2 separate regions of the Homo sapiens genome follow, and region 2 is linked to region 1. A link means that fine-mapping ties the variant in region 1 to the plasma level of a protein whose gene starts in the linked region. Region 1 holds a variant in brackets. A gene starts in the other region. All regions are shown on one strand. Distances are from middle to middle.

Region 1 (5,383 bases):
CCTAGGCGCTGTCTTTAAGGTTAACATACCTATCTGGGGCTAGCATGGTTTAGGGTCTTGAAGGACTGCAATAGCACTAGTAAAAGGAGGAAAAGAAGATGTACTCTTTTGGACAGAGGAATTTTTTTTCTATCTTCTGTTCAAAGAATAAAAGCAAATATGAAGGCATATAAAATATTTGGAAAACACACTCTAAATTTGGTGTATTCAATAAAGTATAAAAAGGATAAAATAATAAAAGCTGTTTTGCCGAAGGTAATATGAGTATCTTGTAGCTCTTCTCTTAAAGAAGTGATTCTGAAATGTTTTAGCATTTACTTTATCAGAATAATAAACTCATCAGATGAATGCCCCTGCACCCACTTCATATATAACTGACCACTGCCTAAAGCCATGGACTTCCTAGCAGAAATCTCTCCCTGATGTTCTATCTCCTATCCCAAACCATTTCACAGTTTAGACAGGCAACTGAGGCAACTACACACAGATGTGATATATACCTCAAAAGTTTTGTAAGAAACTTTTATGGAGTTTCAGATGAGGGGAAGGCTTTGTCCTGTTGGAAGAATCTGAGAGTTCCATGCTGGAAATTTCATTTCAATTTGAACCAAGGAATGGACTACACTGGATCTCAATAGGAACAAGCTGGTTGAGCATATTCCAGACAAAGGACTAATGTGATCAAAAGATCAGAGAAAATAAATCTCTGACATGACTGGTGACCAGGTCAATTCATCAAACAGGTGGGTCAAGAAATAATGCCATTTGAAAAAAAAAAAACGTTAGAAAGTTGGTTGGGATTGCATTATAGATACCCCTGCATATCAGATTACATTTTGAAAGATTTTTGCTCTTCATAAAGGAAACTGTGGCAAATATTCAAAGAAATTTGTGATCTTATTAGAGCTGCATTAAGAAGATTAATATGATTAAATTCATAGGATGGAACAAGAAGAGAAACTAGAGGTGGGCAGAGAGAGGCAAAAGCCCAAACTAGGGTGGGGACATTGAGAATGGAAAGGAAGTGACATATTGTGAAAGAAAAAACACAATTTGTGGTTACTTAAATGTACAGAAAAACAGCATAAGCAGATTCTTAATCAACAATTTGCCAATATTTGTTTTACATATTAATAGAGCCGAAGGGTGTTTTCATAGTTTTAGGAGGTGCTTCAAGAGATCTGTGCCATATCCTTCTCTGGAATGTTCACAGTGTTAACACATCAAAGTCTATGAGAACACCTGTGTAAAGATACCAACTTAACTTTATTTCAGCAAGAAATTATCCAATTTATTCCAGTAGATATTGGCATGTCTGTAGTTGTATGTGGAACACCTATTCACAGTCTAAAAACCTAGTATTCTTTAGTACACACTTTCTGGTGCTTAGAGCAATAACAAACATTAGCTGTCAGTTCTGCCTTTTGTTGAGACAGAGCCATACTTTCTTGTCATTTTTATTCCACACATGTCATTGCTTATCAGTGTGTGCTTATTGAGGGGAGGGGTAATTTTGAGCCATAACATAATTTATGTTATTGAATCATCAAATATTTTGAACTAGAAAATGTTCTAATCTAGCATCACTCAGTTAAAACTCTATTTGAAAATATCTTGGAAACATATAACAGAATGAAAACCATAAGAACAAAGACCATAAATCCAGAAAATAAAAATGAATGAAAAGATCAAGATATAATATACAAATGACAGTTAAACTTTTATAATTCCTTAATTTATGAAAAATAATTCAAATACATTTAGTATTTTACAAATGAGCAGGTAAAATAATTATGATTTTTAAAGGCTATATTAAGATATTATTTCTTTATAAGAAATGTAGACATAATACTTATAATTTGTTTCTGCAGTTAATAATTAACATGGGTCTTTTTTTAGATGAAAAATCTTGAACATGTAAAGAAAAGTCTTGACATTATTTATTGTATTAGAATAAAGTACTAGAATTCTCTCATTCCTTATTAAAAAATTAAGCCTATGTTACCATGTTTGTCAATCTCATTTGATTTTCTATTCTTAGGTCTAAAGTTTCTAATAACAATTTAATGCATTTATCAGTAAAACACATGCTTAGAATCCAAATGTATTAAAATTTTTGCTAAAGTAAGCAAAATAGACAAATAATGAAATGTTTTTACTTTGATTTTTAGAAAAAAGGTAAAGAATTTTATTCTCTAAGAGAGCAAAACAAATTATCTTATGGTGACACTAAGACAGAAAAGAGTTTGTTTTCATTTCTGGTATTCTTTGCCAATGTTTGACAGTTGAATTTTTTTTCCAGATGAGAATTGTGCATCAATGTTCAAGTCCCAAGAGA[C/T]GTTATCAGTCTGAACAGCCCAGTGAACAAGTATTTGTGACTCTCCTTCCAAATGAAATGTTCTACAGAAAGGTGGAAGTGGTAAGAAACCGTTGAAACAGTGGTTAAGAAGGTAGGTCTTTGTGGTACTGATGGGAAATAGTCGTTAGGGGAAAGCTGCTTCACCACACAGGAAACAGAAAAACTCTTGAATGCATCTTGTCCAGCTGTGGCAGAAGAATTTACATAGATAACATTTTAAAACCAGAGAGTTTGTACTCAACTGGTGACCAAGAAACGGAGAGATGAAGGGCTGCAGGCAGAGAGTAGAAGGGAAATATTTTAAAGTTACAAGACTTACAAGCTGTGCATTTTGCAAATCACATAGCTACTTATCTTCTCAGAAAAGATGTTTAAAATAGAGACCTACACTTTATCATATTGAAAACCAAGCAATCTCAATGAAGGTTTTTAAAAAAATGTTTACCAAACCAAAAGAAACTCAAGGAAGCATTTTATAAGCTAACAGAGCTATTATTGAATGCCTTAAAATGGAAATATTTTTATTGTCTAATTATAGATATTGAAAAAGGTAGTAAGTATAAATATTCATAATAAATATTAAAATAGTAACAACAAAGTTTGCCACTTTTTCTCACTTAAGAGGAACTGATTTGGTTTTGTGATTTCACTTAATTATAATGAAAATTCTATAAGCTCAGAACTGCCATCCACATATTATAGATGAGCAAACAGACTCACAAAGATTGAGGCTTTTGACCAAGCTCCTAGGGCTTAGGCTTTGAACTCAGATGTGATGGAGTCTGAAGCTTGTGCTTGTTAAACATTATTGTGCAACTCCCATCATAATAATTTGAACAGTAACAAAAATAAGTACATTCTGTGTTTGGTTCGTTCTCTCTTTTTTTAAGTTATTTTATTCTTCTTCCAGCATGTCATATATATTATTCTCCATATAAGGAAATATAAGAATATATTCATCCTTATATAAAATGTTGGAAATGCTCTCTTGGAAAGGTTTCTTTGTGGCTTCTGGTTTTGTTCATTACTTTGCTTTTAATGATCATTATTATTATTCTTTCACAATATTGTAACATACTACCAGAGTCATTTTATTGTAAACACTTTGAAAAACATACTTCAACAATAATATTGTGGCTATAACTCAAATTCTCACCCACACGGAAAAATTGTGTGTTTTTGCTATAAAATATACGTGGTAAAAAGAAGTGTGAAGTAGAAAATGACAACAAAGTTGCAATAAATTCATTAAAAGCATAATTCATTGGTCTTTCATTCTATTCTATTCATCTAGTGAATTTATCAGATTTTAAGTGGTTTCTTAAAGCACTTAAAGTAATTTCTTCAAGCAATCTAGATACTATTACTGGGGAAAAACATCTCAAAGGCAAACACTCTTAGTATATCAATCGCTAACTTGAGACCATGTCACATAAAATAGTTGATGTGCATATTCTTTACTTCTTTTTGCCTATTTCATGGGATCGCGTTTGCTAGGTACCCAGTCTAGCAAGAAAGCCCAGTTGACATTTCACCTTCTAATCAATATCTAAGCAAACATTTTGAACACTATCTTCTTTCTTCTCCTTCTTTCCCCGGTCTAAGTACTTCAGGCAGGTGCTATCTGATTTGTACGTGTTTTAGCCATCATTATACCTTTCATTTACATGAAGCCTAGTTCATTTCACATCTGAGGCCTCTTCCAGTTCACATAACTCTCCCAATTACTTCTTGAAAATATGAAGAGTCAATCTCTCTTTCCTTTTTTAAAGTACTTAGAAAACTTCTTCATTTCCTAAATGTTTGGGTGTCATGTTCTAATTGAATTTTCATCAGGCTACAAGATAATTTAAAATGCTACTTTACTGATTTTCTATTTAGGTTAAATACTACTTTCTAATAACATATTTCTGTGTGCTTTACAAGCATGCACAATTCATGCATGATGCTTGTTTAGTCTCTCCCAGAGCTAAGGCAGGCCAAAGAATGATTTAGATATATCCTCTGGGAGACAAACTTTTATGTAGCAGGATGGCTATATTGTAAACATTTAAGACTTGTCTGAAACTCTCTACAACGTCCATATTCACATTGTCACACTGTCCTTTAATACAGCTCTTTTGGATTTTTAAATATAGTAGATTCCTAGGATTAAAGCAATTAAAATGGGAGCAACCACTTGTAGGAATCTAGTCCAATCCTCTTATTTTATAGCTAAGGAAAGTAAGACTCAGCACCATAAACGTATTGAAGATTGGCTCAAGGATCAGGTTGTTTTCTGATTTCCAATATTGTGTACTTATTCTAGTATAATTACTAGCAATTGATTTTTACTCAGTAAGACATTAGGCCCAGGGTCCCAGACCAGATAAAAAAAATAAATGATCAAAATAGCTTGAACCATTTTGGCCTAAATATTTCTGGTTTAGAGAAAAATATGGTATCAATGGATTTTATGAGGCCTGAGATGCAATATTTGAATGTCCTCATGATCACTGATTCACTCACTTTTAGATTTTGAATGTCATTTTAATGGCTTTTAAAGATGATCATATTATTTTGGTCCAGTTGGATCATTAAGGCATTTTTTTCTAAAGTAAACCACATAAAATCACTAAAATGGAATAAATCTAAGTTACAAGGAGGACTAAGACACAACCATGAATGAGTAAATCTAAATTCTATGATTAATGACTTTGAGGACCTTGTACTTGACTTCTGTAACAGCATTTAACAAATCCTTTCATCAGAATCATTTCTCATGCTGTACTTTAAATGAAGTTCTTTGTCTGGTCTAGAGCAAGCTGGAGAAGAGCTGGCAAAGAGCCTTTGGTCACATATTTCAAATTCGTTAAGCATCTTTAATCTTCCCCTTGTAGATAAAATCTCTTCAACCAAATCTCCTAACTTGGTTCAGATAGTTCATAGTTCATAGTTTCTGAATCCCCAGTGTGCTCTGCTTTCTAACCCTGCCTTGCAGTTTCTTCTATACCTTTCATTAAATCCATGATGAAATTTAAAACA
Region 2 (5,383 bases), 110 Mb before region 1:
TCACGTGGTATGATATATATAAAAGGAAGTTTATAGCGTTTTAGGAGCTCATAAAAGGAGAACCAATTCCATGCTTGGAAAAGTGATGTCTAAGTGGGACTAGAGCTTTGGAGTTCTCTAAACCCGAGTTCAAATCCTGGTTTTACAGGTTACACTCTATAACCCTGGCCAATTTATTTAATCTCTCCAGGCCTCAGTTTCACCAACTTTAAAATAGGAATTATGATAGTATTGAGTTCAAAGAGTTGATGTGAGTATTAATGAAATGCACATCATAAATCTGGTATGGTGTATGGCAAGTGGCAAGTACCCAATAAATATTAGCTAATAATAGTGATAACAGTAAGCTGAGAACTTAAGACAGATAAAAGGGAAGAGAGGAAAGAGGAAGAGTACCCGGACAAAATAAAAGCAATAGTCTGGTGAGCTTCAGTGAAAGAACCTCGCTCGATCCATGGATCAGGGGATGCTTGGGGTGGGATCAGAGGTGAAGCTGAAGCTGGAAAGGCAAGCACAGCCCAGCTCAATGGGTTTATCTAAGCTCAGTGGGGGCCCCTTGAGAATTTTAGTCAGAGAAGGGACAGGATCAGATCTGAGTTTTTAAAAGACCAGCTTGGCTACAGTGTGGGAATGGAATGGAAAATTGACAAGACTAGAGGCAGAGATCAGTGACAATAATTTTAAAATAATTCCTTGGCTACTGTGGATTTTCACAGTTGGGAATGCAGACATCACATGAAAAAAATATACAGCAATCCATAGAGGGTCTTGAAGTAACTATCTTCTTGTATTAGCATTTCATTCATCATTCATTCATTCATCCACTCACTCAACAAGCATTAACACCTACCAAGGCGGTGAGCTGGTGCCGTGAGAGATTTCTACAAGCATTGCCCTACATGACTCTGCCCTCCAGAAGCATCCCATCCAACACTGACTGCCCATATTCCTCTCCCTGCCTGGGAGGCCTGTTACCCTGGTGACCCAGATCATGTGCAATGCAAAGGCAGGCACCAGCAGGAGACCCAAACCCAGAGGCAGTATCACATAGTAGAGAGATGTCACTAACTACATCAGTGTATAGCTGACTTCTTATTAACGGAGTAAATCTTCCCTGATCCATAGTTAAGTGAATAATAATAGTCAACATTCATCAAATGTCCTGTCCTGTGAATTTCAGGTAGATTAATACATCTATTACAACAACTTTGTGAAACAGGTATTATTATGTCCACTGTATAGATGCGAAAACTGAGGCAAGAGACACTCCCTAAAGGTCACAGAATTAGAAAGTGGTAGAGCTGAGATTCAGTCTAATGTTTTTATCCACTACACCATGTGACTTCTGGCAGTGGGCCACCAGGCTGATATCAGAATTAAACCAATTTAAAATGTATGCTTCAAAATCTAGGCAGGGGAAAAAGATCACTGCTCACTTAGGTATCAGGGAGGCCAAAGCTTGGAAGCTTTTATTATAGGAATAAAATGAAATGGGTGAATAAATATGGTGACAGTCTCTTGAGAAGAAATTGGACTACTCTCATCAAAAGAGTGCCATTTTGAAAGGGTTTTGAAATCGATTTTGCTCTTTTAAGTTCAAACCATAGCTCTGCCATTTGGCCTAGAACGCATTAGAAAGTATTCAAATGGGATTACATTCCTTATCAGTTTAAAAGAGTGGGACATCTCACAGACTCAAAGATGGAGAGGTGTGGCAAAGACATCAAAGGGCTAGCAGAGATCTGTTACTCTTTTGGTTTTCTGTTAATGGAGGGTGAAATAAAAGCTGATTATCTCGATGAGAAATTAGTAGAATATGCTTATTTTCTCAGACCATGTGGCATTCCATCAACCAAGTAGTGGAGCAGGTGAGGAATAAGCATATTTTATCATAAGCTCTATGAGGCATTTCCAATGTGAAGTGAATACAGACAAAATAGAAAAAAAATTCTTAAATCTCCAGAAATGAAAGAAACCACTAGCTTCTTGCAATGCCACTGGATGCCAATAGCAACGGAGTCTTGAGCCTGGGCTCTTAACTGGCAATGAGAAGAATCCCAGGCCAGATGGCATTTTAAAATCCAATCTCACTCTATTTGTCTCTCCCCACTAACCTACATTGCACTTAAAGCAATCAGCCATTTCACAAGCTGCAGTATTTCAAAGTAGTTACAACCCTTGAGAACAGAAAAACTCTCTTAATTGCTGTGAGTTTAAAAATATAGAGAATAAAAATTATGGAATTTGTGAAACAACCATCTCTAATTAAACACGCTCGCTAGCACACACACCCAACACCGCACAGAGTACAGCTTTTCAAACCTAGCCCATTCATGCACACATTTAGCACAGCTCACCAACAAAACACTTTTCCTTCCATTCATTCACTTACTAGTCCCGTTCTTTGGGACTCACTCGCCACCACTGAAAACTAACTTGAGAAGCCCCAGGTCTGTGGGCACCGACACCCCGTTAATTCATCCAGCTTGTCCTGCTCCGAGCGCCAGGCAGGACTTGGGGGCTTCGGTGTCACGACTGGCGCTGCCCCCTGGAGGGACGCCCAGCCTCCACCCGCCCTACCGGAGCGGCACCCCTCGCGGCCCTCGCTCCCTGGGAAACACTCAGAGTTGCACTGTCGTCGCTGCCGTTTAATTTTCACAAATAAAAATGCCCGTGAGACGGAATCCCCCGCCCACCCACCTGCCCGAGACCGTACAACCACATTGAATCGGATCCTCCAGAAGGCTGCCGGCAGCCGGGAGGTGTGAACAATGAACTTCTCTCTGACTCTCTGACACACACACACACACACACACTCGCCCCCCGACGGGAAGTTGTGAACTACTAGCCCGAGGGCCAATGGCGCGACTCCCCAGGCAACACGGCGGCCGGCGGCGGGGGAGGGCCTGGCGCGCGCCCCGGCCGCGCCCCTCGAGTCGGCAGTTACCTCCTTCCTCCGGCTCGGCGCCCCGGGTCGGGTGATGAGGGCCGTCTCCTCGCACACCACGGCCACGTCCTCCACGAAGACGCAGTCCGGAAGGCTCTCGTCGGCCGGCAGCTCCACCACCTGCAGCCCCAGCTTGCTGCCCAGCACGCCCACGTAGAGCTGGTGCTGCCGTTCCGCGCGGGCGACGTCCACCTCCTCGCCCTTGGCGCTTCTCAGCGCGTGCTGGCCGAGCGACTCGGGTAGCGCCCGCACCACGGCGTGGGTGGCCCGGCCGAAGGCGGCGGGGTGGCCGAGCCCGGCCATGGCTTCGGGAGGCTTAGGGGCGGCGGCGGCGGCGGAGGCGGCCGGGTCCTGCCGCGGGCAGCGCGCGCTGAGCCTGCGAGCGCCCGTCGGCTCCTCTTGGCAGCCGCTGAATGTGGTGCAGAAGGAGCCCAGCTCGCGCCCGGAGCCCTGCCCGCGCGACTGAGCATGCCCAGAGCTCCGGGCGCCGGCCCGCGCGCATCCCGCGCGCCCACTCCGGCGCTCGCGGGTCTCGCGCCAGCCCAGGCGGGAGTTGTAGCGGCGAGCGCCGGGCGAGGAGTGGGGCCAGGAGAGGCGGCCGGGGAAGCAGCGAGGGCAAGAAGTATGCGGAGGCGGGGGACCTCGGCGAAAAGCCACCGCTACCCGGACCTGGCGGTACCTGTGTTCTGTCGCAGGTGCACACCTCCCATCGTCCCCAGCGCGGACTTGGAGAGCCGGCCTCGGTCTGGACAGAGCAGCTGGAGGGCTTCCTGGTCTTTACCTGAACAGTTTAAACCTTGCGTGCTTACAAAGTCTAGCCCACTTTTGAAGAGCTATAATGGTTTACAGATTCTTCATGTTGAGCTTAAATCCCACGGGTCCCAGTTCTGTTTTCTGGCCTTACCTAAAGTACAAGTTTTTCTTGTTTTGTGTGTGTTCGCGTGTGTGTGTGTTTTCACAAAACAGCATTTGCATATCTGAAAACAGTTCTAATTATCTATGCTGCCTAACACCATCCTCTACCCCCCACCCTAAACCCCCTCCAGTCCTGGAGCCCAAACCACTGAAAAGTAACTAGTGATTTGGTTTCCAAGTCCCTTCAACATTCTGGTCAGCTTCCTTTTGATACACACCAATTTGCTTGTATCCTTTTAAAATCATAGTATCCGGAAAATAAACAATTCTTCCTGTGTGGTCTGACCAGCACAGACTACAGCAGCACCCTTGTTCCAGATGCTGGGCCTCTATGAACACTGCCTAAGCCTGTATTCACTTTTTTGGTGGTCTAGGGCCAAGGCCCAGGCTACAGCCTTCTTGCCAGAACTCTGATCCCAGCTTTTAGGAAACTCTGGATTTCTAGGAGCAGGTCTCTCTGAGCATCCTAGAATGGTTGCCCCAACTGAGCCCAGAGATGTGATCTGCCTTCTCTCCCCTCCCACAAGGGTGGTGTGAATTTATAAATGAGCTTCAAAATTCTCAGCTTCACATTTGAGGAGTTTTTTTTGTTTTTTGTTGTTGTTTTGTTTTGACGGAGTTTCACTCTTGTTGCCCAGGCTGGAGTGCAGTGGCACGATCTCGGCTTACTTCAACTGCTGCCTCCCCAGTTCAAGCAATTCTCCTGCCTCAGCCTCCTGAGTAGCTGGGACTACAGGTGCACGCCACCACTCGCGGCTAATTTGTATTTTTAGCAGAGACAGGGTTTCACCATGTTGGCTAGGCTGGTCTCGAACTCCTGACCTCAGGTGATCCACCCGCCTCCACCTCCCAAAGTGCTGGGATTACAGGCATGAGCTACCACGCCCTGCCCAAATTTGAGGAGTCTCAAGGACAGCTCTGACACTGACATTGGGAAGTGGGACCAAAAGTAAAATAACAAACCTTTAAGACCGACTAGGTAGTACTTCTAAAGCAAAATTCTTAGGGGATCCAGGCAGCCCCATTAGCCCCAGTTTAGCGTCAGAAATCACTTAATGGTGTCCTCAGATGGAGGATTTCCATCAAAGTTACAGGTGAAAGTTGATCTTTTACCTTAAGCTTGCCCTGGTTAAATATAAAATTTATTTATTTTTAAATTAGTTCATTATTTATTCTTTTTTTTTTTTTTTTTTTTTTGAGATGGAGTTTCGCTCTTGTTTCCCAGGCTGGAGTGCAATGGCGCGATCTCAGCTCACTGCAACCTCTGCAACCGGGGTTCAAGTGATTCTCCTGCCTCGGCCTCCCGAGTAGCTGGGATTATAGGCATGTGCCACCACGCCTGGCTAATTTTGTATTTTTAGTAGAGACGGAGTTTCTCCATGTTGGTCAGGCTAGTCTCAAACTCCTCAACTGAGGTGATCCGCCTGCCTCGGCCTCCCAACGTGCTGGGATTACAGGCGTGAGCCACTGCACCCAGCCTATTTATTCTTATTATATATTGTTTATTTGTTTAGCTCCCGG

Which allele goes with the higher level. Positions count from the first base shown, and alleles are read on the strand shown. Strength reflects both the effect of a copy and how common the allele is.
For the plasma level of the protein whose gene starts at base 3,364 in region 2, allele T in region 1 goes with a higher level than allele C (weak association).

The links. PIP is the posterior inclusion probability: the model's chance that the variant is causal. Protein levels are from antibody-based Olink assays in UK Biobank. Linkage for the fine-mapping came from a reference panel and not from the study's own genotypes, which makes the PIPs less certain.
Region 2: DDAH1 starts here. The variant in region 1 is fine-mapped to the plasma level of the DDAH1 protein (UK Biobank, PIP 0.97).

Annotation. Positions count from the first base shown.
Region 1 is chr1:199,039,254-199,044,636 of GRCh38, forward strand. LINC01221 (long intergenic non-protein coding RNA 1221) reads left to right here. Exons shown (of 3, transcript NR_126351.1): 2 at 2,303-2,419. Among named protein-coding and RNA genes, the nearest start is that of LINC01222, 23 kb to the left of the region's middle. The variant C/T (reference allele first, on the strand shown) is at 2,339.
Region 2 is chr1:85,461,796-85,467,178 of GRCh38, forward strand. It overlaps DDAH1 (dimethylarginine dimethylaminohydrolase 1), which reads right to left and starts at 3,364. Exons shown (of 6, transcript NM_012137.4): 1 at 2,948-3,364. The coding sequence starts at 3,250. RefSeq lists silencers at 2,773-2,972, 3,213-3,622.